Regions from separate parts of the Homo sapiens genome. Here region 2 is linked to region 1. The links come from fine-mapping of genetic effects on gene expression. A gene starts in region 1. The other region holds a variant in brackets. All regions are shown on one strand. Distances are from middle to middle.

What was found. PIP is the estimated chance that this variant, and not a neighbour inherited with it, causes the effect.
Region 2: its variant is fine-mapped to the expression of EVL in lung (TOPMed, PIP above 0.99). The same link has a PIP of 0.9 or more in aorta, pancreas, prostate, stomach and thyroid.

The regions. Positions count from the first base shown.
Region 1 is chr14:100,055,733-100,072,337 of GRCh38, forward strand. It overlaps EVL (Enah/Vasp-like), which reads left to right and starts at 9,690. Exons shown (of 14, transcript NM_016337.3): 1 at 9,690-9,779. The coding sequence starts at 9,769. It overlaps LOC124903379 (a long non-coding RNA gene), which reads right to left and starts at 8,312. Exons shown (of 2, transcript XR_007064329.1): 1 at 7,398-8,312. RefSeq lists enhancers at 9,164-9,213, 9,564-9,653, 9,704-9,783, 9,834-9,973, 10,354-10,433 and 6 more.
Region 2 is chr14:99,942,814-99,959,418 of GRCh38, forward strand. LOC102724682 (a long non-coding RNA gene) reads right to left here and starts at 6,488. Exons shown (of 6, transcript XR_007064328.1): 1 at 6,387-6,488; 2 at 5,122-5,295; 3 at 2,510-2,661; 4 at 1,170-1,734. It also overlaps the pseudogene RNU1-47P. RefSeq lists enhancers at 3,300-4,228, 7,727-8,228. The variant C/A (reference allele first, on the strand shown) is at 8,840.

The DNA of each region.
Region 1 (16,605 bases):
TTAGATATCGTAATCAGTGTTTGTGTCTGTATGTGTGCATGTGCACACTTACGTTGTTGTCTTTTTTCTTTTTTCTTTTTCTTTCTCTTTTTCTTTTGGAGACGGAGTCTTGCTCTGTCACCAGACTGGAGTGCAATGGCTCGATCTCGGCTCACCACAACCTCTGCCTCCTGGGTTCAAGCCATTCTCCTGTCTCAGCATCCCGAGTAGCTGGGATTACAGGTGCATGCCACCACACCCTGCTAATTTTTGTATTTTTAGTAGAGACAAGGTTTCACCATGTTGGCCGGGCTGGTCTCGAACTCCTGACCTCACGATCCGCCCACCTCGGCCTCCCAAAGTGCTGGGATTACAGGCGTGAGCCACCGCGCCTGGCCCACGTTGTTTTCGTATCAGTTCTGTTTGGAACGCTGTTGACCCTTTCAGTCTTGAGCTCTTACATCTTTCTTGAATTCTATAAAATTATCTGTCATTTCATCTTTTTTTTAATTTTTTTTTTGCTTCTGAGATGCCTTTTACTTCTGTAGTCCCTGTCCCTTTTTCCCTACCTGATGTTTTTGGGTCAACTCTTTGACCCTATTCTAAGTTTCTCATCTTTGCCTCTTCTGCTGAGCATACTTACTGAGTTCTCTATTTCAGCAATTATATTTTTATACTAAAAAAAAAATTGCTTGGTTGTTCTTCCTTATGGCTTACTCTCACTTAATGTTTTAAGTATCTTCCCTTGTGTCTCCAAAGACATTTATTATACCTATTGGATTTTTAAATTCTGTTTCCCATGGTAGAGGTTGCTTCATTTGTTATCTGTCTTTTAAGTTTTTCTTTTATGCTACTTGCATTTCTCAGAGATGTTATAATTTCCTCCTGGAAATTAGTAATGATGTCCGTAGAATATTCAGTTGCCTTGGCTAGCACATGTGGTCTACTTCTGCTGCGGATGAGTTTAACCAGGAGTGTGGTTGGAAGGGAGTACCTCAGGGCAGGGTGGCCTGATATTGGAGGCTAGACTCAGCAAACTCTAAGCTTGAAAAAACGAGGCCCTATCTGTCCCCTTTTCATATCACTAGTAATTTGTGCACTTCTTGAGTCCCAGTCCTTTCAGGCAAAATAGCTTAACAAAGATTCTGAACACACACCATGTACCAAGAATTGGGCTGCCCACAATTGATTATAAAAGATGAATAAAAAATGATAGTCCCTTCCTAAAGGGTAATGCTCTGTGACCACTAAATAGATAAAATTTCAAAATACAGAAGTAGCACAGCAGCAGGAATAATTTTCTCTATCCTGGGGGCTCAGTAAACACTTCATTAAAGAAGATACAGGCAAATTGGATCTTGAAGGACAAACCCAAGTTTGCCTGTAGATGGGGTAAGAGGTTGTTTCAGGAGGTGAGGACAACTGTGTTTACAAGGCACAGGAGCCTGAACCACCAGGGCATGTGCTAGAAACTAGATTTCCCACTCCCAGGAGTCCAGTGGTGGGATTTTTACCTTTCCCCTTTACTTCTCCCTTTATATGATGAAAGATGTATATGGAGAAAGATTATATGTAGCATAGTGTCCTCATGAACACCAAGTCCACGGAAGTCTAAGGTCACAGATATCGGTGAAGAGCCATATTACAGTCCCCCTAAGAGACTGCTCAGCTGACATCGGGGTTTCTTTATTTGGCCATTCACACTTTCTTTCCAGATGCTGTAACTCTGGAAATAAAACATTTTCTGAGGACAAGTCTCAGATCATCAGAAAAATGATTTGGAGTTTGTTTTTTTTTTAATCTGAGTTTGTTGTTCTTCATGTCTTCCCTCTGGTATAAGAAACAGTTGGACTTCACAGAGCAGGCAGGCTTAGGCAGGCCCTATCAGCAAGAGCTGGAACTGAACTGTGAGTGAACTGGAAAGGAAAAGGCAACTTTTAGCGTCTTGTGGCTGGCTGAGCTATTTTAGTGTAAACTTTTTAAAGAAATGTCTCTCAGGCAAAGTGGTTGAGAATACCAGAATCTCTGGCAGATCCAATTTCCATTTTGGTTTTTGGAGCCATAGTTGAGGTTCTAGGAGTCAAATAATGATAGCACATATAAAATATTATATTTAAAAAGCCTAATGCAGCATTGTTAATAGGATTTCATAATGTGTTAGAGACTGTAACTAATTTTGGGTAGCCATTTCTCTGTCCTCCTTTTCTCTACTCCCAGGACACAAGGGCTTTGTACTCAAAACACCCTGCCTTCTTAACACAAATTCTCATGAAATGTCATTATTATACAAACATAATTCATTTCTTGTTAGTGAAAGACCCTTTCATTCACAAACATCCCAATGAGAAAGAAAGAGAAGTGAGGTTAGTCTGTTTACAGAAAAGAAAACTAAAATCCACAGAAGAAAGTTGACTTTCCCAAGTCACCACAGCAAGTTTTTGAACTAGATCTCCTAAGTAGAGTGTCTTCTAGTATAGCTCTGTGATTTATTTTCAGCCCACTCTGCCTTCTCTTGGAGTCTGGACACATGGAAAGCACATCTTTTAATTCAAGTCAACACAGTTGTTGTTTATTGAGCATTTACTGTTTTCAAAATCCAAAGCCAAATGCCTTAGGATTTAATATCAGTATCCTGTGTGAGTGTTGATGCCCGTCTTCCTCATTCATTCATTCATTCATGTATTCATCTATGCATAGTTATTCATATGATCACCACTTACACTGTACCTACTACCTAAGCAGTATACCAGGTGCTGAGCGCAATTCATGGTTTCACATTATAAGATGCTACCTCAAACAGGATACGTTTCTTAACTTGCTCACTAAATTGCGTCACAAGTGCCAACAGTTCCTATTCTATCTTTCCAACATTTTCTATTGCCCTGACATGAACGATTTAGGAATTGGTACCACTCCTGCAGTACATGGTTATTTATAAGATCATTTTTTTTTTCATCGGACCTGGAGACACCAGGGTCAAAGTAGAGACCTGAATGCCCAGGAACATACAGCATGTCAATAACAAAGCAAGGGTTGGAATCCCTATCTCATAGCACCCTACTCAGAAAGCTTGCCACATTTTTTGCTTCTTTTCATAATTCTTCTCAAGTGCTTCATTAAAGCTAGATGATAGAGTTAAAATAGTACTCTATTTTATCTACGTACGTGTAATTGGAGTGCCAAAAGGTTCACTCTTACCTGTTACCTACCTAGTGAAACTGATAAAAGACAGTAGTAACGTGTGAAGGACAGAGGAAATGAGGGGTGAAACTGAAAGGCACTTCTCACAGAAAAGATGTTTACTCTTAGGCTAGCATCTTCAGAAAATGAAAAAGAATACCCTTTGGTAGTTTAATAATCATATTTGACTTCTGCCTCTGGCCATGGCAGAATAATGGTAATGACTTGCTCTCTTGACAAAAGCAACTATGAAACTGTGTAAAATATGTGAAGCAACTGAATATACAAAGGGTACTGAGACTCATAGAAGATATTAAATCCCTGCCATTTTCAGACATTGGACAGATAAGATAGGACTTTGATTCTTGAGAGAAGAAACACCATGAGAAGCCCCTGGCTTTCTGCCTGCAGTCACTATCTAGTCTTGGCATGGAGTGGTGGAGCCCAAATGGAAAGGTGATTTTAGTCAGCTCAGTGGGCAGAAATTAGAATTCTACGCCACTGAAATAGTTGGACTTTGCAGGGCAAGGAACTAGAGAAATGGAAGCCCTGTGACAGGGCAAAGACAGCAGAGTTCTGTGTAAGGATTCTATTTGGATTGTTGGCTGAGGGCTGGGTGTGCATGTACAGAGTGAGATTCTTCATGAGGCCTGGCAGAGATCGCCTGCTGTAGGGCTGAGAGCTGAATGATGATGCCAGAGGTCATTCAGTTCTGGGAGATGTTGCAGATCCGGCTTAACCTGAATGAAGAAACCGCCCAGAACACCTCAGGCATTCAGTTGAGATCCCAGAACTGTCACACTTTAGGAGTAGGACTGTGCTCTTGAGTCAGATGGGGGGGTGGTTGCAGAGGAGGGGGATACCCTAGGGCTAAGTTCAAAATGGAAATAGAACTGAAGAAAGGTTTGAACCAAGCTTGGTAGCACCAAAAGGATCTGCCAGTAATTTCCCTGACTACCAGAACAGACTTCACATCTTTAAAGAAAGATAGCATAATCCAGACTTTCTGCAATGTATCATACAGTATCTAACATACAATCATAAGTTAGTAGACATATAGAGTCAGAAAATATGACATATACTTAAGGGGAAAAAAGCAGTCAGTAGACCCTGAAATGCTCCTGAAGTTGAAACGAGCAGGCAAGTTCTTCAAATTACCCATAATAAATATGTTCACAGACTTTAAGTAAAAGGTGGATAAAGTGAACAAACAGGAAATCCCAAAGGAGAAATGGAAATTATAAAAAACTTGCCCAGTGCCGGGCGCGGTGGCTCACGCCTGTAATCCCAGCACTTTGGGAGGCCGAGGCGGGCGGATCACGAGGTCAGGAGATCGAGACCATCCTGGCTAACACAGTGAAACCCCGTCTCTACTAAAAAATACAAAAAATTAGCCGGGCGTGGTGGCGGGCGCCTGTAGTCCCAGCTACGCGGGAGGCTGAGGCAGGAGAATGGCGTGAACCCGGGAGGCGGAGCTTGCAGTGAGCCGAGATCGCGCCACTGCACTCCAGCCTGGGCGACAGAGCGAGACTCCGTCTCAAAAAAAAAAAAAAAAAACTTGCCCAGTGAAAATTCTACTACTGGAAATGAAATGAAAAATTTACTGGATGAGACTAAAAGTGGATCAGAGATCCAGAAGAAAGGGTAGTGGACTTGGAGACAGATCAATAGATATCTAATCTGAAAAATGGGAAAATATTTTAAAAAGAATTACCAGTGCCTTGTGATAATATCAGGAGGTCTACATACGTGTAATTGGAGTGCCAGAGGAAGAGGAGAAAGAGAATGAGGCAGAAGAAAAATAATTGAGGAAATAATGACCAGAATTTCCCAAATTTGGTGAAAAGCCTTAAATTACATACCTAAGAATCTCAGTGAAACCCTAGCAAAATGAATGCAAAAAGAACCACACCTAAACCCATCAAAGTCACACTGCTGAAAACGAAAGAAAAAGAAAATATTAAAAATGACCAAAGGAAAAGGGATCCATTGCATACATTATATGTGAATGATGGCTGACTTCTCAGAAACCATGGAGGCCAGAAGACAATGAAACAATACCTTTAAAGTGCTGAAAGACAAAAAAAAAAAAAAAACCTCAGTATTCTCTATTCACAAAAAGTGCTTTGAAGCTTGAAGACAAAGATGTTTTTCAGATAAAAGAAAACTAAGAGAATGTATTGCCAACTTACCTGTTGTACAGAAAATCCTAAAGGAGGCCAGGCATGGTGGCTCACGCCTGTAATCCCAGCCCTTTCGGAGGCTGAGGTGGACGGATCCCTTGAGACCAGGAGTTTGAGACCAGCCAGGGCAACATGTTGAAACCCTTCTCTACAAAAAATACAAAAATTACAAAATACAAAAAATACAAAAATACACCAGACATGGTGGCACATGTCCTTAGTCCCAGCTACTCAGAAGGCTGAGGCAGGAGGATCATTTGAGCCTGGGAGGCAGAGGTTGCAGTGAGCTGAGATCACCCAGCTTGGGTGACAGAGCAAGACCCTGTCTCAAAAAAAAAAAAAAAAAAAAAAAAAAAAGAAATGCTAAAGGAAGTTCCTCAGGCTGCAAAAAAAAAAAAAAAAAAAAAGATACCAGGAAATTCAAGTGCTCGGGGATGGATAAAGATTACCAGAAAAGAGAAATATATGAGTAAACCTAAAGACTTTTATTTCTTCAATACACGCACACACGCACATGACTTGAACAATCCCGGGGTTAGGGTACTGGCCCCTCGAACAGTTGAAAATCCACCTAAACTTTTGCATCCCCCAAAATTTTAGCTATTAAGAGCCTGTTGTTGACAGGAAGCCCTACCAATAACATAAGCAGTTGGTTAATACATACTTTGTATATTATGTGTATTATACACTGTATTCTTATAATTAAGCTAGAGAAAAAATTTTATTAAAATCATAGGTGAAAATATGTTTTCATTAGTTTCACTAGTCATTAATTGGAAATGGATTATCTTAAAGTTCTTCATCCTTGTCATCTTCACATTGAATAGGCTGAGGAGCAAGAGGAAAAGGAGGGGTTGGTCTTGCTGTCTCGGGGTGGCAGAGGTAAAAGAAATTCCATGTGCAAGTGGACCTGGGTCAGGCATGGTGGTAGCTCATGCCTGTAGTCCTAGCACTTTGGGAGGCTGAGATGGGAGGATTGCTTGAGCCCAGGAAGTTGAGGCTGCAGTGAGCTGTAATCATACCACTGTACGCCGGCCTACGCAACAGAGTGAGACCACATCTCAAAAAAAGAAATAGTAGTATAATGGACCTGTGAAGGTCAAACCTGTGCTGTTCAAGAGTCAGCTGTGTGTATATATATATATATGTATATATATATATATGACTGTCCAAAACAAAAATATGTAACATTGTATTTTGAGTAACATATGACAGCTACACCATAAAGGATGGGAATGGAGAATGAAATTATGCAATTATGAAGTTCTTAACATTTTACTGAAGTGGTACAATATTAACTCTAAGTGTACCCTACAAAGTTAAGAATGTATATTGTAATCCCTAGAAAGACCTCTAAAAAAAAAAGAGGTATAGCTAAAAAGTCAATAGAGAAATTCAAATGGAATTCTGAAAAGTATTTAGTTTACCCACAAGAATACAGGAAACGAAGAACAGAGGAACCAGAAACAGATGAGACAAACAGAAAACAAATAGCAAAGTAGTAGACCTGTATCCATCTACATCAATAAACTAAATGTAAATAGACTAAATACCCCAATTAAAAGATAGAAATTGTCAGACTGGGTGAAAATGCAAGACTCAGTCATACACTACCTATAGGACATACTTTAAATACAAAGATACAAATCGACTGAAAGTGAAAGGATGGGTAGTAGGCAGAGTAATGCCATCACCCCGCCGTAATCCCTAGAACCTGTGACTGTGTGACTTTACATGGGATGGGCATGGTGACTCATGCCTGTAATCCTAGCACTTTGGGGGCCAAGGCAGGAGGATCACTTGAGGCCAGGAGTTTGAGATCAGCCTCGGAAACATAGCAAGACCCCATCTCTATTTAAAAAACTGTTTTCAAATTAGCCAGGCATGATGGTGTGTGCCTATAGTCCTAACTACTCAGGAAGCTGAGGTAAGGAGGATCACTTGAGCCAGGAGTTTGAGGCTGCAGTGAACTATGATCACACCACTGCATTTCAGCCTGGGTGACAGCAAGAGACCCTGCCTCTAAAAAAGTAAATAAATAAAATGTTACCTTACATGGCAAAAAGGACTCTGCAGACGTGATTAAAGTTGTGGACCTTGAGATGGAGCGGTTATCTTGGATTATCCATTGGGTCCAGTCTAATCACACGAGTCCTTAAAAGTAGAGAACCTGTCCACACCGCGGTCAGAAAGAGATGTCACTGTGGAAGAAGGGTCGGAGCACTGCTGCGTGCTTTGAAAGTGGACAGAGGGGCTATGAGAAAGCAATGCAGTCAGTGTCCAGAAGCTGAGAGAGGTGAGCAAGAGAGACCTATGTGGAACTTCTGATGATGTTGGGCTTCTGACCTCCTATCATCTTACAAAACTCTAAGATAATAAGTGTGTGTTGTTATAAGCCACTCAGTTTGTGGTAATTTGTTACAGCAGCCGCAGAAAACCAATGCTGCATGGAAAAATGTACCTAACAAGAGCTTCAAGAAATAGTGACAGAATTAAAGAGGGAAATCCACAGTCACAGTTGAAGATTTCAGGACCTTTCCCTCAGCAGTTGATAGAATAATTAGACAAAAACAAACAACAGCAACAAAAAGTAACAAGGACGTAGACGTTCTGAACAATACTATTAACCACCATGACCTAATTGACATTCTAGAACACTGCACCCGACCAGTTTCAGAATACACATTCTTTCCTTGTGCATATGCTACATCCGCCAAGGTAGACTGCATGCTGGGCCATAACGCACATTTTGATAAATGTGAAAGGATTGAGATCATACCAGGAAAAACAAAGGAAGAAGTCACACCAAATATGTTCTCTGGCCCCAGTAGAATTAAATTGGAAATAGGTAGCAACAGATATAGGAAAACACCAAATATTTCAAAATTTAACGAAGCACTTATCAATAATCCATGGATAAAAGAAGAAATCACTAGAGAAAATTAAAAATATTTTGAACCAAAAGAAAAAAGAAAACTGCAATACATCCAAACTGTGGTTTGCAACTAAAACAGTGCTTAAAGGGAAATGTATATCATTAAAAGCCTTTTAAAATGCATTTTTAGCATTCAAAGTGCATTCATCTCTCCAATTAGAACTGATACTTCTTTTGTACTGTACTCTGTACAGCTGTTTTTCACTATATCAATAATATTTTAATGGATCTATTAAATATTTGCTAACATTATCAACCTCTTCTTTTCTAAACCATAAAAGTCCTTTAAGGACAAGTACAGTCGTTCTCAATTTTTTGTCTGTGATTTCTAACACAGTGCATGCTTCTTAGTGAGTTCTCAGTAGATTTTGAAAGAAAGATTGGACTGGATCTTACCTTCATGAGAACCCTGTGGAGATAGGCAAAATAAGTATAACCCCATTTTACAGTTGAGGCCACCCACTTAATAAACAAGTGACAAAGCCAAGTTTCCAGTATTCCTCAAGTGTTTTCCTTTCAGGCTCTAAATTGCTGACTTAAATGTCATCATTAGAGAGAGTTGTCTCCTCGGTAGAAGTACAAATTTTGTTCCAGAGTCAAATATGAAGACTTGATCAGTGGCCTGGCGCGGTGGCTCACGCCTGTAATCTCAGCACTTTGGGAGGCCAAGGCAGGCGGATCACCTGAGGTCGGGAGTTCGTGACCAGCCTGACCAACATGGAGAAACCCCGTCTCTACTAAAAATACAAAATTAGCTGGGCATGGTGGCACATGCCTATAATCCCAGCTACTCAGGAGGCTGAGGCAGGAGAATCGCTTGAACCCAGGAAGCTGTGGTGGCGGTGAGCCAAGATCGTGCCATTGCACTCCAGCCTGGGTGACAGGAGTGTGAAACTCTGTCTCAAAAAAGAAAAAAAGACTTGATCAGCTTATAGCCTTTATCATCTAGTCTTCTATTCTCTGGAGAGTCAGTGGGGACTCTTCCGAGTTCTTGTAGCCTTTTCTTAAGGCCTATAGGAAGTCATCTGTGCTGAGCCTGCACTTTCTATAACAGATGGAAAACTGAAGCTCAGACATCTTAAGTGGCATTGACTTAGACTATAGAGCTAGTTAGTGGGGGGCCAGCACCATGACCTGGCCCCTACCTCCAGCAGGCTTCACCCACCCTTGCACCCTTGCAGGAAGCACTTAGAGGCTTGAGGTTGCCAGCTGTGGGGGGTTGGGCCTGTGCAGTGCCTCTCAGCCGCCCACGCTGGTGGGGCTCTGCAGTGTTAGCTTCTTGTTTCTCTATTTTCTACCTAGGTTTCAGTTTTTCACTTGGGTTTGTTTCCCCTTTGTCTCTGGTTCAGCTTCCTTTTCCTGTTTGGTTTTAAGTAGGCTATAAAAATCAAGTTGCTGTCTTCAGAGGGTCTGTGGTCCTCTGATCAACATAGGCTGGTGGGAGTACAGGACTCGCCTCCTCAGGGTTCCCTGTGCTGCCACTTTTCAGCCATGGCCACAAGGTGAGTATTGGAACCAGTGCAGGGGACAGAGGGATGTCAAGAGGAAACCTAGAATCTTAACGGTGAATGGGCTGTAGAAATTATCTCAGGTCCCCTTAGTATACTGATCGAGAAGTCCATGACCAGAGGGCAGGGGGCTTACATGAGGTTACACAGCAGGTTAGTGACAGTCTGCTCCCTCTCTAGCCGCTGGTCTTTCCATTACACAGGCCTGTGTCTCTTGATGCCTGTGACCTTTAATGGCTTCTGAGTCAAGGACTTACTTAGAAATTAGCACCTGCCTCTCATTATAGGGAGGAGGGTCTGAGCCATCTAGGGGAATTGTTGTTTAGCTCAGAGGTACATTTGGTGAGTCCTGGCCCTTCTCTCTAGAATGACCCGAGACTGGTTGTTTTTTCTAAATATAGGCAGAGAGGGTTCTTTTTATGATAGGAACTTCATGAACTTAATAGCAAGAGTCCTGACCCTCCACTTGAGAGACTTGTGGACTTAGGCTATTGCTGTTGAGCACATGTGTGAATACCAGCCAGTCTACAAACCGCACTCCTCATTGAGATTGTTCTCTCTAAAGGTGAGATTACATTTTGGACCTGCCTCTCCCCTGCCCTACAACTCTGAAAGATTATAGATGATAGGACAGACAGACTTTTATCCTGTGGGGTTTGGGGCATTTGTTTGATTGACTCATGACAGCTTTGTTTTTTAGCATAAAGTAACAATCCCTCACTTTGAAAATTATTTCACAATTTCCAAAGTGCCATTTCGCCAGTTTTCTTATTTGAATCTTTTAGCCGTGTTAGATTGATGAGAACGCTGTCATCACTCCTGTTTCGTAGCTGAGAAAACCTCTGAAAAGTTGTGGGGTTTGTCCAAGGTCACATGGCAGGTTGGGGAAGGAATGGAACCAGGGTTTAACGAGGTTGGCCTCATCCGGTGGTTTTCGCAGCACGCTACACAGGCACAGAAGCAGCTTGCAGTGAGTTGTTAAAATTGACGTGGTGATAGGTAGAACTTGTCCAGGGCTGCTTATTTTCCAGTTGGCTTTATTTCTGATCCTGTCATTTTAGTAACTTTCCTTTAACTTTAGAGGACTCGTGAGTGGAGCTTTAGAAAACAGAATGCTTTTCATTTCAAAGGCATATCAACTTCCAAAGTCATTTTCAGTTGTAAATTACATTGTGAAAACTTCTAGCAGCTTATTCTACCGTGTCAATTACTAATTGCAGAAAATTATATCAAAAGTAAATGAGGCACAGCAATTTCTTTTTCAATTTTAAAATCGTAGAAATCCTAGAAATTTCCATCTTGAAAAGACCTTGGAGGTGATCTACAGTAGATAAGATGTTTTGGGCACCTTATTCTCCACTTCAGCCAAAATAACTCTGCTTTTATGTTTTCTATGTATTCCTTGATAATTCATTGAGAAAAAACAGTCATTGTTGGTGGTGGTGATGACTTTCAAGTCTGAAGATTACACTAATCTAGCCCAGCTCTTGAGTGCGCAGATCAGGAAATTGAGGCCCAGTGTGGAGCAGAATTTGTGTACGGGGAGCGGAGTAGTGGCTGAACCAAAGCAAAAGCCCAGGTTTTCTGGTGCGTCCCTCCCCCGTACAAGGCTGCTTGCACTCTGCCACAGGTCCCTGGCCTGGCACCATAGTGACAGTCCTGGTGGAAGCAGCGTTCGTGGAGCTGCAAGGTCAGCAGCCATAGGAGCTGTGAACTTTTCGTTTTTCCTCATGCTGACTGACACATGGGGATACCGTGGCGCCTGTGGTGGGGATACAAAGGACCTTTTAAATGTGAAAATATATCTTACCAGCTCTAGCTCTGGCTACCCACCAATCAAGAAACAGTTTCCAAGCCCTGACTGGATTAGGAGCTGGGAATTCTCTTGAGTGCATGACAACGTACAGAATGCTTTCACTGACGTTATTTAGTTATCGCAATAATCCTGAAGGTAGTGTTGTGGGGCGTTTTTGTTTTTGTATTTTTTAGAGATGAGGTCTTGCTTTATTGCCCAGGCTGGCCTCAAACTCCCGGGCTCGAGCAAGCCTCCTGCCTCAGCGGGACTACAGGTGTGGGCCACCACACCCAGCTAGCATTGTTTTTATTGTTTCTGTTTCACAGGAGAGAGTAACTTGACAAGAGACATAGCCAGTGAGTGATAGACCCAGGACTTGAACCTGTGCCTCCTGACCACAGATGCTTTGCCCTTTTGCTCTTACGCCTGAATTAGAGCTGCCTCTGTCCTCAGGGACTGGTAGGGAGTGAGGAAGACAGCACTCACAGAAATGAGGAGGCGACTGGCTGTGAGGACCCTGCAGCACAGAGAGTAATAAGCATAGACAGGAGGGGCAGTAAGAGTTGAGAAGTTGGGGACTGTCAGGGAAGACCTCAAAGAGAAAGTGGGATCTCAGGTGAACTTTGAAGAATAGGGATGATTTTTTAGAAGGCACTGGCAGGCATCACAGGCAACCAGTCACCCAGCGGCTGCTCTGGGTGCTAGGGACACAGTGGTAAACAAGACAGGCAGTCTTGTCCTCAAACTGAGGGCAGAGTCGGGAGGCAGAATATAGTCAAGAAACCATCAACAAGAGACGTGAAAACAATAGAGCAGTGTGGTAGAGAGTGACTGGGCCACGCCTTAGGGGACATGTGGGGACATGAGGCAGCCATGCTAAAATCTGAAGGTTTTGGGGTGGAAAGGGCAGCAAGTATCCTCAGCTGGGGACGAGGCCCTGAGATAGGAATGGTTTGGTGGGTTCAAGGGTCAAGAAAAATACAGAGGCTGGAGCAACATGAAGAAGGAAGAGTGAAGGCAAATAAGGGCACAGAAGGCTTTATCAGGCCCAACGGCAAAGCCTGCGAGCTGTGCTGAATTTAGCGCGTATGTCAGAATTTAGTTAGGGGAAGCCTTTGGAGGGAGGGTTTGAAGCAAAGGGAAAGACATCTCATAGAAGCTTAAGAAAATCACTCTGGGCCCTGTGTGGATAATGGCTGGCAGTGTGGCAAGAATGGAGGCAGGATGACCTCTTGGGAGGCTACCGCAGTCATCCAGGTAAGAGGTGAGGGTGGTTTGGGCCAGCAGTGGAGCAGTCAGGGTAGGCGGTGAGAAGTCACCAGATTCAGGAAGTGCCGTGGTGCTGTAGCCTCCAGGACTATCTGGTGGATCACACATGGGCGTGGGGGAAACATGAGTCAGACATGGCTTAGGTGGGTGGTGATTCCTTTCACCACGCTGGGGCAGCTGGGGTGCTAGCTGGAAGAATCTGTAGAGGTGTGGGCCTAGCAGCACAGGTTCCCAGGAAATGTGGGTTGAACAAGGCTGACCTGAGCAGGAAGTAGCTGAGGTCGCGGTGCAGCAGCAGGAAACGTGATATGGATGTGTGATATGTCTGCCACTTTTGGGGCCAGCCAGTTAATTTCGTTTCCTTCCCTGGTCTCTCTGTTGTCTTTGGTAGGCTGTGGGTTTTTCCGAAGCACGTACTATCTTCTAACGTATTATAGAACTTACTTGTTCTACTGTATACTGTCTTTACCCCTCAAGAATGTAAACTCCCAGAAGGCAGGGATTTTCGCCTATTTTGTTCAGTGGTGTATCCCCAGTGCCTAAAACATTGCCTGGCAATACACATTTATTGAACTGCTGGATTTAATTAACTACTTTGATATATGGTCCTAAAGATTCCTGTGCTACCAAAGTTGCTACTCAGTGGAGCTTCCTGGTGTGGCATGTTAGAGAAGAGACCAGAAAAACAGACATTTCACTTGCTGTCAGGTAGTGAAGGAGCTGTGGCTGCTTGGGCACAGTCATTACTGTTTATTCCACTGTGCTGCACATCTTGAAGCTGTAAAGATATAAGAAGTCTCGCACAGCCGGGGTTCAGCTTACAATCCTTCGCACCTAATTGTACGCCTTTGTGTGAGGGTTTGGAGGAGTCTCCAGGAACACCTGGTGTTTCCTTTCTCACAGGTATTTCCAGTCCTCACGGGCAAGTCAGAGAGTCCCAGAGGCAATTGAACAAGCCCTCAGAGATCACGTAGTCCGTTCACTCTCCATGGGAACCCGCACTTCCCTAGAGACCTGTAGCCAAATCATTTGGAGAGCTTCTGAAGCTTCTCTGCCTTCCTCTGTCTCAAAGAATCCCATGTGCCTCTAGTTGAGAAACATTCCTCTGGAGATTCTAGGTTATTCTCATGAGAATGTTACGATACTCAGGTGGGCTGGGGCAGAAAATGGATGAGAACTAGTGTAGTCCAATGGCTTTGCTTTGGTAACTGAACCCACAGAGGAGGAAAATAACAACAGCTCAGCTTTTCTCAGTGTTATACACCAACCATTACGCTAGTTACATGATATACATACTATTTAATTCTCATCCTTTGAGGTCTGGTATCACTATTGCCACTTTACAGATAAGAAAACAAGGGTTGGCCGGGTATGGTGGCTCACTCCTGTAATCCCAACACTTTGAGAGGCCAACGCAGGTAGATCACCTGAGCTGAGGAGTTCAAGACCAGCCTAGGCATCATAGTAAGACCTCCTCTCTTAAAAAAAAAAAAAAAAAGAAAGAAAGAAAATAAAATTAAAAAATGAAAATTAGCCAGATGTGATAGTGCATGCCTGAAGCCTATAGTCCCAACTTCTCAGGAGGCTGAGGTGGGAGGATTGCTTGAGCCCAGCAGTTCAAGCCTGCAGTGAGCTGTGATCACACTACTGCACTCCACCCTGGTGACAGAGCAAGACCCTACCTCAAAAAGAAAAGAAAACAAGGGCCTACAAAGTATCGTATTCCAGGTCACATTGTTGTCACTTGACGGAGCTTTTGATCTCTGAGAGGATCAAAATCTGCCCTCTCAGCTTTAACTTCTCAAAGCTAAACTTGTCCCAATTTGCAGAGTCAAGGGTAGAATCGAGGCCCTCCTGATCTCTATTTTGCAGTCTCCGTCATTCTGTGCTGTTAATACCACAAGAGACAAAAGAGACCTCGTCTGTCCTGTAGCACCCCGTGCCTGCGTGCGTATCTCTTGTCGATGCTCTGTCGGCTCAGGATCTCTCCTACCAGCCTAGAGCTCTTTCAGAGCAGGACGCTTGTGTTATGCATTCATGTTTGTCCCTGTGCCTAGTAAATAGCACAGAGTCCAAGTGGCTACTTGTGTCTTCAGGGGTGTTTGTAAGGGCAGAGCCGGGGTCTTCATTCCCAGGCTGTTGATTCATCCTTGGAGCTGAACATACTGTCCCAATCCTTGGCCCAAGCCAGGCCTCTACAGTTGTCCCAAGGCTGTGCTAAAACCTGTTCCACTTCACAAGTGATCAGAGTCACAGACTCTGGGGACACAAATTTTGAGATGAAGACACAGAGCAAAATATATAAATGTTTTTGAGGTTTGAGTAGCCTTAACGTCCACGTGGCTGTCAGATGGCTCCCCAAAGAAAGGGCTACGCCGGTGGCCTTGAAAGAGTATGGGAGATGCATATGAGACAGGGTCAGTCTAGGAATGTCAGACTCCCCCAACAGTTGGTTGGAGTGTTTTTCCAGATTGCACCAGACTTCACAGAGTAATGGAGACCAGCTGTCCAGGCATCTGAGAGGGTGACATCCAAGGAGAAAAGGCAAACGTCTTGATTGCCCATGATGTGGGCAACCAATTTGGATAGAAAAGAAGGTGTCAGGGTTTAACACTGAATGTAGACTTTATTTACCCAAAGCCTTTCTTTAATTCTAACACTCTCAAAAATGGGGCTCAGTCACCATTTGGGTTTCCCATGTTAATATGCAGAGAGCTAATTCATTGTCTTTCATTGCTGTAATGCAGCAGTTCTCAAAATGTACTCCAGAGATTGACCCTCCTAGGAGTCTGTAGATCAGAACTGTATTTATAATATTACTAAGACATCATTTGCCATTTCAGCTCTTGTCTCATGAATTCATGGTGGAATTTTCCAGAGCTATGTGATGTTTTGACATCATCACTGTGGCAGCTAATGAAATGTCTGCTTGTATATTCTTGTGTTTTAAAAAATTATTAGTTTTAATTTCAAATAAGGTGAATATGGATAGACTTAACCTACATAAAACAGAAGCTTTTTGGCATCCTCAATAATTGAGTGTAAAGGGGTTCTCTTGACCAAAAAAGTTTGAGAACTATGTGTGTAAAATAGTCAGTTGTATGGCTGCACTACAGACAGCAAGCATGGAATTGAAAATACCACCTGCAAGGTGGCGGTTCCCCCTGGTAGAGAGGAGGGGCTCTGGGTCTGGGAGGAGGATGCAGGCGTCACTTGAACTAAACAGCTTTATGACTTGCTGTCAGATTTCCTAGACTGTGTGGTGGGATCGTGGGAACCTACTTCTCACAGGCCTGAAGTACTTCACAATAAACATTTTAAGTCTACTTCATAGCATGAAACCTGTTTCACACCTGTGCCCATTAAGAAAAAAAAATGGCACCCTATAAATGATTTAATAATTACTAAGGGGAAAATATAGCTTTCCATTGGAGATCTGGCAGTCACCTCTTAACCAACCTACAGTCTACATTCAGTTGGCCTGAATTCTTCACACACACAACATCTTTATCAATGAAAAATTTTTAAATAGTTTCACATCCTAGCTTAGCTTGAAAGGGAGTAAGCAGACGGCTCGATCAAATGTAATCCATGAGCAGATCCTACATCCCAAAAAATCAGAAACATTTTGTAAAAATTGGGTAACTTTTTTGTTGTTGTTGCATCGGAGTCTCCCTCTGTCGCTCAGGCTGGAGTGCATTGGAGCTATCTCCGCTCAGTGCATCCTACACCTCCCTGTGCCTCCTGGGTTCAAGC
Region 2 (16,605 bases), 110 kb before region 1:
CCCAGCACTTTGGGAGGCTGAGGTGGGAGGATCACTTGAGCCCAGGAGTTCACAACCAGCCTGGGCAACACAGCAGGACCCCATCTCTACCAAAAATTTTAAAAAGTAGCCGAGTATAGTGGTATGTGCCTGTAATCCCAGCTACTCCTGGAGGCTGAGGTGGGAGGATTGCTTGAGCCTGGGAGGTCGAGGTTGCAGTGAGCCTGGAGCAGACCACTGCACTCCAGCCTGGGTGACAAAATGAGACCCTGTCTCACTCTGGGGACTCTGAAGGCTGACAGCCTGCTGCCGCCTGCCTCCAGGGCCTGGGAAGTTGATTTGAAGAGTGACACTACCAGGGCAGGGAGGCCATCTGTCATTCTGCGGGTGTTTGTTTGGGGGATTTTGTAGGCTTGTGACAGCCTGCAGGGAAAGCAGGGCTATTTGATAGATACACTGAGGCTTGGAGAAGGAAATAACTTCCCCAAGACAGGCACTTGTTCCAAACTTGTCTTAATGACATGTGCTGGGCGCTGGGAATATAAGGACGGGCAAAACCACACCAGTGCCTGCCCTGGGGCGCCTACATGGCATCAGAAGAGCCAGAGGTTAGCAGAACGCATGCCCAGCCGCGTGCTAGATGACCACCATATGAGCCAGGAAGGAATTGAGAGCATCTAACTGGAAGACCCGAGTGAGTATGGGGACTCCGGAAAGTTTCCCTGGCAGAAAGAGAAGGAAATGACCCGGGAGAGCGGGGAGAGAGGCACTGGAGGCTGAGGCCAACACTCACAAAACCCTTTTGAGAGGGAAATTCAAGAGCACAGGGTAGGGGCACAGGAGTCCAGGGCAGTTTGTGAGAGGCAGGGCACGGGGGGCATGTTAAGGGCTTTATTCCAAATCCCAACAGCAAAGGGGGGCCGCTGGTGGGTTAGGCAGGGAAGGGTTCCCACTGCAATTCTGAAAGGGCTTCCAGGCCGGGGGCTGATGGGTGGGGGCTTTACTGTCATCTCAGTGGGCAGTGATGGTGGCGTGGAGTGGGGAGGTGGGAGCACTGTCCCAGAGAGGTTTGTGGGGTGGCGTCGGCAGAGCTCGCAGGTGGAGTGGATGTGGGCGGGGCTGAGTCCAAGGTCCCTGACTGCTTCTCTGGTGGGATGACAGTGCCAAGAGCTAAAATGCAGATCACTGACCGTCTGAAGGAGGGTAGTAAGGCCTGGAACAGGTGAAGCGAGTTGACATCCAACTGCAAGGGCAAAGTAGGCATTCGGCTTTGCAGGCCCAGCACAGACATCCTGTGGGAGGTGGACACGGGAGGCTCTCCCCGGAGGCTGGTTTTGGGAGCCAAGGTGTGCTTGAGATTGTAGGTTGCTCAACCCAGGCCAAAAGAGGCTCCCAAGCCAGCTTGGGGGACTCCAGAATCCAAGGGCAGGTAAGTGGGCTGCCGGAGAGGAGCGAGAGCCAGGAGGGCCATGGTGGAGCAGGAGACAGTCCCACACGTGGAGGATCTTGCGTCTGCAGCAGCAGGGCAGCTCGATGCAGTGCTTGCCAGGAGCCAGTGTGGACTCTGCACTGGCTTAGCAACCGGCATTCCAGCATCTCCATGCGCAGGCAGTGCCAGGCAGGAGATCCAGGCAAGGTGGGGACAGCCTCAGCCACGTAGGGAAGAGAGAACATGAGGCCACGGGTCGCACTGGGCTGTCAGCCCAGTGGGGGCGGGGGGTGTGGAGGTGGAGGAAGCTTCCAGGCCGGTTGGAACTGGGGAGAGGCAAAGTTCAGTGGATTCTTGGCATTGGTAGATCTTAGGTCCTGGCCGCCGGGGTGAGAGGGACTCCCTGGCAGGGGCTGTCTTTGCTTCACTGGAAAGCCCATTCTGGCATCTCCCCAGCCCCCCACATTTTTTTGAATGATTACTCCCACGCCCAAAGGTTGGCTATTCCATTCATTAGCCATCTCTTCTGTGGTTTGGGAACAGGCTGCTGTCATCCTATCTTACAGGCACAGGAGCGCATAGGAAAGGGTAGATGGGGATGGTCCAATCCACAACTAGGGGGACAGGTTTTGGTGAAAAGGAGCTAGGGAACATGCGCTTGATGCAAGGTGAAAACTGACTCCAGACCTGTTCTTCCTGCAGATTCTCTTTTTTAAAAAAAACTTTGGCCAGGCGTGGTGGCTCACGCCTGTAATCCTAGCACTTTGGGAGGCCGAGGCAGCAGATCACCTGAGGTCAGGAGTTTTGAGACCAGCCTGGCCAACATGGTGAAACCCAGTCTCTACTAAAAATACAAATTAGCCGGGTGTGGTGGCACATGCCTGTAATCCCAACTACTTGGGAGGCTGAGGCAGGAGAATCGCTTGAACCCAGGAAGCGGATGTTGCAGTGAGCCGACACCACAACACTGCACTCCAGCCTGGACAACAAGAGCGAAACTCAGTCTGAAAAAAAAAAAAAAAAAACTTTACAGAAAATTTCAAACATACACAAAAGTAGAGAGAGCCTCTCACCCAGACTAAAAATGATCAGCGTACTCACCTGGCAGGGGAGATGCCGTGATCACGAAAGTGGTCTTCCTGGGGTGAGGCTTATCCACTGCACTCCAGACGTGCTGACCCCTGCAATTTCCCCAAAAGTGGGAAACTCGGCTGCGTCATCTGTGGTCATGGGGGCTGTGTTCATGCTTTCCCCTGGTTAAAGAAAAAAAAAATCAAACATTTAGAAAATCTTGTTTCCTCTGTCTCCCCTAACTTTTGGGGGAGATGGAGTTTTTGTTTTTGTTTTTGTATTTTTGAGACAGAGTCTCGCCCTGTTGCCCAGGCTGGAGTGCAATGGCATGATCTCATCTCACTGCAACCTCCGTCTCCCAGGTTCAAGCAATTCTCCTGCCTCTGCCTCCCGAGTAGCTGGGATTACAGGCACGCACCACCACGCCCAGCTAACTTTTTGGTATCTTTAGTAGAGACAGGATTTCACCATGTTGGCCAGGCTGGTCTCAACTCCTGACCTCGTGATCTGCCCACCTCAGCCTCCCAACGTGCTGGGATTACAGGTGTGAGTCACCGTGCCTGGCCAAGATGGAGTATTTTTTAAAACAAGCCTACAGGACTTTGAGACCAGCCTGGGCAATATACCAAGACCTCATCTTTGCAAAAAACTAAAAACTCAGCTGAATGTGGTAGAGTGCACCTGTAGTCCCAGCTACTTCAGGGGCTGAAGAGGGAAGGTCGCTTGACCCCAGGAGGCTGCAGTGAGCTGTGATTGCGCCACTGCACTTCAGCCTGGGTGACAGAGCAAGACTTTGTCTCTAAAAAAAAAAAAAAAAAAAAAAAAAAGCAAGTCTAAGCCACCATGTCGTTTCACCTATAAATACTTCAGTCTGCCGCTGTGGTGAAGACACTTTGTGTGAGGACACCATGACATCATCACAGCTGACAAACTTGATGATTTCAGTTTCTCGGGCTGTCAAGCCTGATGCTGTGTCTCAGAGCCTGGCTGCACAGGAGCCTAGAACAGCTGCCTGGCCTCCCTGCTGAGCAGTTCAGGGTCGGGTGTCGAGCGTGCAGCCCCCAGTTCTGAACCCTTCTCCAGAGCCCAATTCTTCCCCCCTGACCCCGCTGCTCGATGCCTAGTGGCATCCCTGCCCCTCCCCATCTCCTGCAGACGGGATGCTCAGTGCTGTCTGAAACCTGGGCTCCTTCCATCTCCTGCCGGATCCCTGGCTGTGCTTTAGGCCACCTCAGGAGACCCCCTTCTGGGCCAGACAGCCTGGATCTTCCCTACCTTGCTGGCAAGCCAGACCGGACCACAGAAGCCTTTCGGAGTACCAAGTTCCCTCTTGAAGGAAGGAGGCTTGTTTAAGGGGAGCCTCCCCTGCAGGAAGTCCGTGCCCTCCTGGGGCGTTCCAGGGGGTCCGCAGGTCAACTCTAAGTTTCAATAAAAATGGGGCACACGCGCACACCACCCTGCGCTAGGGAGCTGGGGCGGGGCTGCGGGTAGCACACACTTTCTCGCTGACTGCCCCGGATCTCAGGGGACCCCGGCGTGCGGGAAGCCGGAGGGGACGTGAGATTCAGGGGCTCTGGAACACAGGTGACGCCTGGGCTTATAATGCGGGCCAGTTAAGAACAAATTTGGCTATTTAGGCTGAAAACACGAGTAGCTGCTCTAGCAGACTGAATAAGTAATTATGAAAAGACCTTGAACTTGGGTTATAAATTGAAAACCTCCCCTTCCCAAGCCCCCTCCAGCCCCGCGGCCAACTGCAGGTGCGCCACCTGGTGGCAGAAGAGCAGAGCACCGCCCCTCTCTCCAGCTTGCCAGGGCTGATTCTGACCTGGGGAGGGTTGGGGTGTGGAGAGAGAAAGGGAAACTCTAGTTGACTTTCTGGGTGGGGCGTATGTTTCAACTGACCTTCTGAGAGAGCTTTCAGAGGTTCTTGGAGAACCCCAACGTTGCTGATCGCCTCTCAGCTGCAGTCCCCTGGACCTGAATGAAGGTGTTCTGTTTAGGTGCGGCCTCCTTCTGCAGCCCTGAAGCACCGGGAGGGCTGCCTCCATCGGCCTCCTTCCTGCGGAGATCCCACCGCCCTCCGGGGAAGCCCGCTAGACAGGATCTTAGACGACCTTGCTTGGATCCTTGCTTGGAGGTTCACATCTGGTCTCAGGGGACACTTGTGCCTCCCACACCCACACCTTGCACCAGTGGGTGGGCAGTTACTGCCTTCCACATGCAGCCTTCTCTGGGCAGCTGGCGCTTTTGAGGCACTGGTCCACAAATCGCAGATGGCACACCTCAAGCCCTCCAAGTGGCTTAGGCAGAAGTACCCTCCCTGGTCCTCCCTCAGGAGAAGCAGGGTTGGAATCAGCAGCTCAACTTTCTCCCAAAGAAATCCTCCTTGCAAATATTACTTCTGAAAATGTCTAATTCCCAACGCTTTAGTACTCTTATCGTGGATGAGGATGCCCAGGAGGTGTCTCGGGAACCTCTTTTGTAACTGCTGCTCATGGTCTAACAGTGCCTCTGGAAGACACATCTATTGGATCTTGGCTCCTCGGCTGAACGCTCATTTCAACATCCAGTTACATAACCACAAACATTATTGCACAAGTTTTTTGTACATGTTTGCAAGAAATTATCTGGGATCCTACCTGGAAATGGGACTACTGATTTTCTGGGGCATGCATTAAATATTGCCAAACCATTCTCCACAGCAGCTCCACTGGCAGCCTGGGAGTCTCTGTTGCTCCACTTCCTCATCCATATTAGGAATTGTCATTTCATCTCATCTCATACAGACCCGAGAAGCAGGATCCATCGCCCCTCTTTGAAGAGAAGAAAGAGGGTATATTAGGCTGTTCTTAAACTGCTATAAAGAAATACCTGAAGGCCGGGTGCGGTGGCTCATGCCTGTAATGCCAGCACTTTGGGAGGCCGAGGCAAGCAGATCACTTGATGTTAGGAGTTCCAGACCAGCCTGGCCATGGTGAAACCCTGTCTCTATAAAAAATACAAAAAAATTAGCTGTGCATGGTGACCCATGCCTGTAATCCCAGCTACTTGGGAGGCAGAGGTGGGAGAATGGCTTGAACCTAGGAGGCAGAGGTCGCAATGAGCCGAGATCACCCCACTGCACTTCTGCCTGAGCAACAGAGTGAGACTCCGTTAAAAAAAAAAAAAAAAAAAGAAAGAAAGAAAGAAAAGAAGAGAAAGAAAGAAAAGGAAATACTCGAGACTGGGTAATTTATAAAGACAAGATGGCTGGGCATGGTGGCTCACACCAGTAATCCCAGCACTGTGGGAGGCCGAGGTGGATGGATCATTTGAGGTCAGGAGTTCGAGACCAGCCTGGCTGAAATGGTGAAACCCTGCCACTACTAAAATTACAAAAATTAGCTGGGCATGGCCAGGCACGGTGGCTCACGCCTGTAATCCCAGCACTTTGGTAGGCCAAGGCAGGTAGATCACGAGGTCAGGAGTTCGAGACCAGTCTGGCCAATATGGTGAAACCCCATCTCTACTAAAAATACAAAACTTAGCCAGGCACGGTGGAGCGCACCTGTAGTCCCAGCTACTCGGGAGGCTGAGGCAGGAGAATCGCTTGAACCTGGGAAGTGGAGGTTGCAGTGAGCTGAGATCATGCCACTGCACTCCAGCCTGGGCGACAGAGCAAGACTCTGTCTCAAGAAAAAAAAAAGAAAAGACGTTTAACGGGCTTATGGTTCTGCAGGCTGTACAGGAAACACGGTGCCAGCATCTGCTTGGATTCTGGGGAGGCCTCAAAGCAAAGAGCTTTTATTCAAGGCAGAATGTGAAGTGGGAGCAGACAGTTCGCATGGCAAAAGCAGGAGCAAGAGACAGCGGAGAGGAGCAGGTGCCACATGCTTTTAAACAACCAGATCTTGCAAGAACTCACTTGCTATCACGAGGAAGCACCAAGGGGATGGTACTAAAACATGAGAAGTCCACCCCCGTGATCCAGCCACCTCCCGTCAGGCCCCACCCCCGTGATCCAGCCACCTCCCGTCAGGCCCCACCCCCGTGATCCAGCCACCTCCCGTCAGGCCCCACCCCCGTGATCCAGCCACCTCCCGTCAGGCCCCACCCCCGTGATCCAGCCACCTCCCGTCAGGCCCCACCCCCGTGATCCAACCACCTCCCGTCAGGCCCCACCCCCGTGATCCAGCCACCTCCCGTCAGGCCCCACCTCCAACACTGGGGATTCCCATTCAACATGAGACTTAGCAGGAGCACATAGCCAGTGTATCAGAGGGTTAGAGAGACTGAGGTACTTGCCCCAGGTCACTCAGTAAGTTGGTAACAGAGCTAAGGGTGGAACTCCCAGTTCTCACAGCTACATTCTGTGCTGGCGTTCTCAGCCTGGTGTCTTCAGAGCATTATTAGAGTGGGTGCTGCTAGAGTTTCAAATAATTTGAGACTGTGCTGCACACTGCACATGACAGAGAGAGATGTGAGCGCCAGTTGCCTCTGAAAGGCATAGGAAGGTTATACATTTGGGCATTTCCCCATCTCGAGCATCAGACACCTTTGCTCCTAAGGCATTAGTGATTGGCCCAGGGATCAATGTTCCACACATCCATCTTGGGAAATGCTGTGGGAGAAGGTTAATCATACAGAGGTGGCCCGGCATGGTGGCTCATGCCTGGAATCCCAGCACTTTGGGAGGCGGAGGCAGGCGGATCACCTGAGGTCAGGAGTTCGAGAGCAGCCTGGCCAACATGGTGAAACCCCATCTCTACTAAAAATACAAAAATTAGCCGAGCGTGGTGGCGGGTGCCTGTAATCCCAGATACTTGGGAGGTTGAGGCAGGTGAATCGCTTGAACCCGGGAGGCGGACGTTGCAGGGAGCCCAGACTGCATCACTGCACTCCAGGCTGGGTGACAGAGTGAGACTCCATCCCTGCCCCGCACCCCCCAACCCCCGCAAAAAAAGAATGTGGTTATAACATTTCAGCTTATAACATTGGGACGATTCCTCCCTCCTTACCAGGACCGAACTAGGAAATGGCCAGACTTCCTGTCATGGTAAGACTGATGTCACATGCTCAGTGACATTTCTGAGATTCTTTTGGCCAAATGGGCTTCAGAATCACTTAGGTTCTCCCAGGCCCTCAGACTGTGGCGACTGAAAATAGAATGGACTGTGATCACCACCACACTGCCCAGCTGCCCCTTGACGCCCATGGGGTTCCTCTGCACGGGGTTCCCCTGTTTTCATGTGGCTTATTTTACTCTGATTCACACAGAGGAGGCAGGTTTAGAAACACAGCATCCGTTTGTCTGCATTTAAAACAATCCTTGGGAGAAGCAGGCAGCAGCCCTGTAGTCCTGGCCACAGTGGCAGCTGAGGTAGCCCCTCCTCACCTTCAATCACTGCTCCTCCATTTGAAAGCATTCTCAGAAACTGATGCTACAGGAAAGGCCTCTACCTTGTTCTGGCAAGTTCCCTCCTGCACTTCTTTCCCAGGCTGAGGCAGCTCCAGGGCTCAGACGTCAGCCAGAAGTAGGGGAGGGAGAGGACTCAGCCAGACATAGGGATCTGGGGTCCAGAGGGCAGCCGCACAGCCACCACGCTCGTCTGCCATGCTCGTGATACCTGCCCACCCCATAGCAGAGATGTTTCTGTTAACCACTTATAGAATGGTGGGGCTGCAGTGACGCTCAGGGGTCGTCTTGGGGGAGCATCTCCCAAAGTATGTTCTGTGAAACCCAATTCCAAAGCATGTTAATAGCCCCTGTGTTGGGGAGGCACTGAGCTAGACGCATTAATATGCCCTGTGAGTCGAGAAGGGCTATTGTGTTCATCTATTCACCCAACAAACACCACCCCTACCCTGAGGCAGCACATCCTAGGGGCCGGGGATACCAGAGTTCTTGCTCTCATGGAACTGTGAATGGAGAAAGCAATGAAGAGGCTGAGGAGACTGTTCCCGCTGGAGATGGGCGGGGAGGGGCCGGTAGTCACAAGGGCTACTTAAGCCCAGGCACGCAGAGGAGGTGGCTTTTGAGCAGAGAGTGTGGTGACAGAATAAGGGCCTGAGACTTGCAGCCAGCTGGGGACACCCCTGGCTGAAGATACCAGGGCATGGTGTGAGAGTGCCAGGTCCCCGAGGCTGTCTAACTGCACAGCTTCTCCTTCCTGGGACATCACTGCTAGGCCAGAGACTCAGCACACCTCGGGGGAAAGGCTCTTTTGCCCACTCCCTCTTTTTAAAGGCAGAATCAAAGCCCTTTGGAGAACAGGGATTTACCCAAGGTTGCTGTGACCTTAGCTCGGGCAGCCCCCAGCTGCCCACCTTTGCTTCTTTTTAGAAAATGAAGGTTAATGTGCTTTAAATCATAAAACT[C/A]ATCCAGACTCATTATAGCAAATTCAGAAAGAAGCCCAGCCATATCACTACCACCCTGAAATAGCACTATTACTTCTGAGCACATTTCCTTCCTGTATTTCTTTTTCGAGTAGTTTTGGATGTGTTTCCATAGTTAACATATTGCATATACAATGCTTTCTATTGCTTTTTTCATGTAGCTTTATAGGCATTTTCCCATGTCATTATAACTTTGTTATAAATAACTCCTATCAGCTGCATAACATGATGCCATAATCTATATCACTGCTCCTTGACAGTCTTCTCATATTGAAGATTGTGATGGTGATGATGATGGTGGTGGTGGTGGTGCTGATGATGGCAGTGATGGTAATGGTGATAATGTTGATGCCAATGATGTGGTGATGCTGGTGATCATGGTGGTGATAATGGTGGAGATGGTTACGGCGTGATAGTGATGATGATGGTTGTGATGTTTCATGGTGGTGGTGATGGTGGTGATGCTGCTGCTAGTGGTGATGGTGATGATGAAGGTGATGGTGATGTTGATGATCATGGTGATGATGATGATGGTGATTGTGGTGGTGACGATGATTGTGATGCTGAGGTGATGGTGATGGTGGTGATGCTGATGATGGTGGTGATGATGATGATTGTGATGCTGAGGTGATGATGGTGATAGTGATGGTGATGATGATGAGGATGATTGTGATGCTGACATGATGGTGATGGTGGTGATAGTGATGGTGATGATGATGATGATTGTGATGCTGAGGTGATGGTGATGGTGATGGCGGTGTTAGTGGTGGTGATAGTGGTGGTGATGCTGAGGTGATGGTGATGGTGATGGTGGTGATGCTGATGATTGTGGTGATGATGGTGGTGATGCTGATGGTGGTGATGATGGTAATGATGATGGTGGTGATACTGTTGTGAACTCCCAAAGTTTGAAACAGGTTTCAGTTAATTTAGAAAGTTTATTTTGCCAAGGTTCAGGACACACCCGTGACACAGCCTCAGGAAGTCCTGACAACATGTGCCAAGGTGGTCAGGGCACAGCTTGGTTTTATACATTTTAGGGAGACATGAGACGTCAATGAATATATGTAAGAATTACATTAGTTCCATGCAAAAAGGCAGAGACAACTAAAAGCAACCCCCCCACCCCTTCCCTTCCAGGTCACAGGTAGGTGAGAGACAGATGGTTGCATTCTTTTGAGTTTCTGATAAGTCTTTCCAAAGGAGGCAATCAGAATATGCATGTATCTCTGTGAGCAGAGGGATGACTTTGAATAGAATGAGAGGCAGATTTGTCCTGAGCGGTTCCCAGCTTGAAGGGGCCCAAGATATTTTCCTTTCACACTGGTGATCATGGTGGTGATGGTGGTGATGGTGGTGATGGTGATGGTGGTGGTAATGATGGTGATAATGATGATAATAAAAAATACTAAAGGCCACCCTTACTGAATGCCATTTCTCCACAGTGTACTTGTGCTTTATATGCTCCTTCCATCAACATTTAGACAGGCTCAAATATTTCCTGTTAGAAAAAAACCTTCCTGGTCCATCCCTTTGCCACAGAGCTCTCTCGGGGCCCTCTTCTCTTCTCCCTCCACCTTCTCCCCAGGTTATCTCATCAGCTCCCTGGGGCCAGCCGCCTCTTCAACCCTTACAAGGTCCCAATCACTATCTTTGACTCAGCCTGTCTCCTAGCTTCAAACCTCTGTGTTCAACATCCTGCAGGATGTCTCCATCTGCTCATTCACTGGAGCCTCCATCTCTACATGCTCAAACCCAATTCATCCACTTCTCCCCCAAAAACCCGCATGCCATCCTCCCAGTGGCCCATGCCAGGCATGTGGGTGTTCCTCTTGCCTGTATCAGCAAGCAGCCAATAAGTGACAACCTCGATAGCATCACTCAGCGAGCTCTTACCCACCCCTTGCCAGGTACTGTTGGAGGTGCCTTATGCATGACGGCTCCTTCAACACTCTCAACAGCCCTGTGAGAGGGTCACACAGTGAAACAATTGGGATTTTAACCCATGTAGTCAGGTTTCCAAGATCACACTCAACCACAGCACCATTCTGCCTCTTCCAGAATCGAGGGCTCTGCTCCATGAGGAGCCAGGGCACGTGTCCACGTCATCTCTCCACGGATGCTGCCTATGCCCTGGAGGGCCACCATCACTGCTGGCCTGGCTGCAGCCATGTTGACCTTCCTCCAGGCAGTCTGAGTGACCTTTCCAAACCATAAATCTGACCATATCACTCTCCTGCTTAAAAATTCTTAGGAAAAAGCTCCTTCATGTTACACACAGGACCGGTCAGTGAGCTCTGGTTCCTCTCCAGCACCATCTCTCAGCTCCTGCCACAGAGCTTTTCTCTGTCCAACCACCACGGCAGCCTCTCGTTGCCACCTGGTCTTTGCTCATGCTCTGTGCCCCCAACCCTCTTCCTCTCATCATTCTGGCCAACCACCATAACTTTCAGAACTCAGCTCAAAAGTCACTTCCAGCAGGGCACAGTGGCTCACACCTGTAATCCCAGCACTCTAGGAGGGCAGGGCCAGTGGATCATCTGAGGTCAGGAGTTCGAGACCAACCTGACCAACATGGTGACACCCCGTCTCTACTAAAAATACAAAAATTAGCCGGGCATGGTGGCAGGCACCTGTAGTCCCAGCTACTCAGGAGGCCGAGGCAGGAGAATCCCTTGAACCCAGGAGGCGGAGGTGGCAGTGCGCCAAGATTGCACCACTGCACTCCAGTGTGGGCGACAGAGCAAGACTCCGTCTCAAAAAAAAATAAAAAGTCACTTATTCCGAGAAGGCTTCCCTGAGTGCCAAGGCTGGTTCTTGTCCCTCCTCTGTGTCCCCACCTCTGTTGTACTTCCCTTCTCATGCTGAATTGTGGGTGTAGGTTTATGTGCCTCCAGCCTTTCTGCCAATCAGCACCCTAAGGTGGAAGCACTCTGCATCTCGGGCACTCTTCTTTCCCATCACCTAGCACAGTGCCTGGTGCCCACATGTTATCAGAAGTGTTTGGTGAATACATGAAGGAGTGGACTGTGAGCCTCTGAACTTGCAGTACCCTTTGCCCTTCACACTTCACCCTGAGCATCTTTTCTTGCTTTGGGTGTTTTGCTATGGCAGAGGAGACTGCAGTGAGCAGCTGTCCACTGAGCTTTTCTTTTAGTTAAATTTATTTCTTTGAGGCAAATGCCCAGAAGTGGAATTACTGAGTTAGCAGGCAAGATCATCTTTATGTCTTCTGATATGTTTTGCAAAAATGAATTCCAAAATTATGGTAGCAATTTGGTAGATTTTTTTCTTTTTTAGCAACCTAATCCTCTCTCCCTTTTTAAGTGTCTTCCTGGCGGAAGCCACACAAAGCTATTTTTACCTAAAGGCTGTAAACCTCATCATTCTCCAAGGAGAAAGTCGGGCATGTGTGAGGAAGCTATCTACCCACCTCACAGGCTCATCAGCCCTATGCTCTTGCCAAGCTCTAGGTCATTTTGGAAAAGCAAGTTGAAATTATATTCCAAATTAGGCAGTGGTTTTGCGAAAGAAGGAACACACACACACACACACACACACACACACACACACACACACACGTCACACACATATTCATCTCCATTTCGGGGCTAAATTATGAACATCTTTATCACTCAAAGAAACCAGAAAGTTATCAAAGCAAAACCAGTGAACTTTGCCAGGTGAATGTTACGAAGTTTGGACGTGGAAGTAGCTCGGAAGTTGGGGGATCACCTGGTTTTCACACTTTGTTTCAACAGTGTGATGGTTAATTTCATGTGTCAACTTGACTAGGCTAAGGGATGCCCAGAGAGCTGGTCAAACCTTCTTTCTGGTGGTGTTTGCGAGTGTCTCCAGAAGAGAATCAGTAGACTAAGGAAGCTTGATCTCACCAATGCGGGGGTAGGGTGGGGGGGCTGGGGGGTCATCATCCAACTTGTTGAGAACCTGAACAGAACAAAAAGGTAGAGGAAGGGCGAACTTTCTCTCTCTGTTTGACATCTACTAGGACATCAATCTTCTCCTGCCCCAGAACGTTGAAGCTCCTGGTTCTCAGGCCTTTGGACCTGGACTGGGATTCCCACCACCAGCTCCCCTTGTTCTTAGGCCTTCAAATGTGAACTGGAACCACACCACCCGCTTTCCTGGGCCACCAGTTTGCAGATGGCTGATCATGGGACATCTCAGCCTCCATAATCGCATAAGCCAATCCCCCATAATAAATCTCTTTCTATTTGTCTATACACTATACATCCTATTGGCTCTGTTTCTCTGAAGAACCCTGACTAATACCAGCAGCAAAACCTTTTTTCAGATGAAATCATACAAGAAAATCCACTCTGTAATAAGGTTAAGAATGGGGCTGCTCTGGCAGAAGCAGTCAGAGGTGGTGGTGACTCAGAAGCACTCTCACCCTATCTTGTTCCTTCCTCCTCCCTAACACCCCCTGCCCTGGCCACCTCCACCTGCCCCACGGGGCTCCAGAGTCTGCCATCTTGGAGCGGCCTCTGGAGGAAACAGAGGCTCAGGGAGAGGAAGGACCTGCCCAAATCCCCACAGTGAAGGGTGGCAGAGCGGGGTCTACCTGCCGGGCTCCTGGCTCAGTCTTGGGATGGTTCTCAACTATTGTCTTGACAGGAGCCTGCTCAGTTATTCACAGTTACAATGCACATCTTTTCAAGGACGGCCCGAGGTGGCTGGTTTCCCCCAGTGGTTAACCACCCAGGTGCCCCCAGGTATAGTTTGGTTTTAAAATTCTTCCAATTTAAGTTCCCCTATTACCAACATTTCTACTTACTTGATTTTTAAGAAAATCACCCATTGCATGTAGAACAGGTGGACATTTATTGAAATGCAACTGCAATAACATCCCCTGGAAATTAACTTCCTCTCATTTGCCCCTGTGAGTCTGTCTCATTTCTCATTCCTTCTGTTCTGTGCTTTTTTTTCTCTTTTATTTCTTGCACATTGTGAGTTTTCAATTTTTTTTTGAAGAAGCATATTTTAATTTTATTTTTCAGTATTTCAGTTATCTAATTCACTATTTTCAGCTTTTATCTTTATTCATTTCCTCCTCATAATTTCTTTTTATTTATTTTGCTGGGTTTTTTTGTTCTGTTTTGTGTGTTTGTTTGTTTTTTGAGATACAGTGTCATTCTGTCTCCCAGGCTGGAGTGCAGAGGCAGGATCTCGGCTCACTGCAACCTCCGCCTCCCATGCTCCAGCAGTTCTCCTGCCTCAGCCTCCCGAATAGCTGGGATTACAGGCACCCACCACCACACCCGGCTAATTTTTGTATTTTTAGTAGAGACGGGGTGTCACCATGTTAGCCAGGCTGGTTTTGAACTCTTGACCTCAAATGATCCGCCCACCTCAGCCTCCCAAAGTGCTGGGATTACAGGCATGAGCCACTGCGCCCGGCCTATTTTGTTGTGTTTTAAGTTGAATATTTAATTCACTTATATATGTATTGCTTGTTTTGCTTTTTTATTTTTATTTTATTTTGAGACGGAGTCTTGCTCTGTCACCCAGGCTGGAGTACAGTGGCACTATCTCAGCTCACTGCAACCTCCACCTCCTGAGTTCAAGCGATTCTCCTGCCTCAGCCTCCCAAGTAGTTGGTATTACAGGCGCCTGCCACCACGCCTGGCTAATTTTTGTATTTTTAGTAGAGATAGGGTTTCACCATGTTGGCCAGGCTGGTCTCGAACTCCTGACCTCAGGTGATCCGCCCTCCTCTGCCTCCCAAAGTGCTAAGATTCCAGATGTGAGCCACCACGTCCAGCCTTGGTTTTTTTTTTGTTTTTTTTTTTTTTTGAGACAGGGTTTCACTCCCATCACCTAGGCTGGAGTGCAATGGCGCAATCTCAGCTCACTACAACCTCCGCCTCCTGGGCTCTAGCGATTCGCCTGCCTCAGCCTCCTCAGTAGCTGGGATTACAAGCATGTGCCACCACGCCCAGCTAATTTTTGTATTTTTAGTAGAGATGGGGTTTCGCCATCTTGGCCAGGCTGGTCTTGAATTCCTGACGTCAAATGATCCACCTGCCTCAGCCTCCCTAAGCACTGAGATTACAGGCGTGAGCCAGCACGCCTGGTCCATTTATATACATTCTTTGTTGTATAATAATAAAAGCATTTAAGGTATCACTGTATCCCATAAGTGTTGCTCTGAAGTTTTCTCCTTTTCATTAATTTCTTTTTAATTTGTAGTTTTAACATTGATTTCTTTCTTTTTTTTTTTTTTATTTAAATTGAGACCAGGTCTCATTCTGTCATCCAGGCTGGAGTGCAGTGGCGTGATCACAGCTCACTGCAGCCTTGACCTCCCAAGGCTCAGGGAATCCTCCCACCTCAGCCTCCCGAGTAGCTGAGACTACAGGTGCGCACCACCACGCCCAGTTAATTTTTGTATTTCTTGTAGAGACAGGGTTTTGCCATGTTGCCCAGGCTGGTCTCAAACTCCTGGGCTCAAGTGATCATCCTGCCTCAGCCTCCCAAAGTGCTGGGATTATAGGCGTAAGCCACCACGCCTGGCCGATTTCTTCTTTAAGCTAAAACTTACCTATAATAGAAGAGTATTTTATACTTCTAATGTTTTATTATGTTTTTATGGTTATCTGGGGTTTTTTTTTTTTTGCACTCCAGTGAAATTTCTGAACTCTAAGGATAACATTCTGTATATAAGTAATCTGTTTGTTCTGCCAGAAGCTGATATCAGATTACTTATGTACAGAATGTTCCCCTTACATCCACCCCAATATGCCCAAACCTAATGCCTGTGAATATGTAGGTTACATGGCAAAGGGGAATTAAGGTTTCAGGTAGAATGAAGGTTGCTAATCGGATGACCTTAAAATAGGGTGATTATCATGGATCATTACACTGGCAGCCACTGGGGCCAATGTCATCACAAGGGTCCCTAACAGTGGAAGACAGAGGCACAGGAGGTCAGAGGGAGACACGACTGCCGACAAAAGGTCAGCGATGCCATGTGAGAGAGACTTAACCCCCGCGGCTGGCTTTGAAGAGGGCCCCATTCTAAGGGGCCACGAGCCCAAGAATATGGGCAGCCTCTGAGAGAAGGTGGAAGAGGCAAATAAACTCACCCAGAGCCTCCAGAAGAATGCAGCCCTACTGGCACCTTGGCTTTAGCCCAGAGAGACTTTTGAGCTCTGGAACCGTAAGATAATAAAAATGTGTGTTGTTTGAAGCCACTCTGCTGTTGGTAACTTATGTTAGCAATAGGAAACTGATATGATATGTGAAAAAGGGACTCCAACTGGTTACCAGGTTTCTTTCTTTCTCTTTCTTCCTTTCTTTCTTGACAGAGTCTCGCTCTGTCGCCCAGGCTGGAGTGCAGTGGCGCAATCTCGGCTCACTGCAAACTCCACCTCCCGGGTTCACGCCATTCTCCTGCCTCAGCCTCCCGAGTAGCTGGGACTACAGCCACCCACCACCATGCCTGGCTAATTTTTTGTATTTTTAGTAGAGACGGGGTTTCACCGTGTTAGTCAGGATGGTCTCGATCTCCTGACATTGTGATCCGCCCTCCTCGGCCTCCCAAAGTGCTGGGATTACAGGCGTGAGCCACCACGCCTGCCCTTCCTTCCTTCCTTCCTTCCTTCCTTCCTTCCTTCCTTCCTTTCTTTCTTCCTTTCTTTCTTTTTTTCTTTCTTTCTCTCTTTCTTTCTCTTTCTTTCTTTCCTTCTTTCTTCTTTCTTTCTTTTCTTTTTTTTTTAAGACAG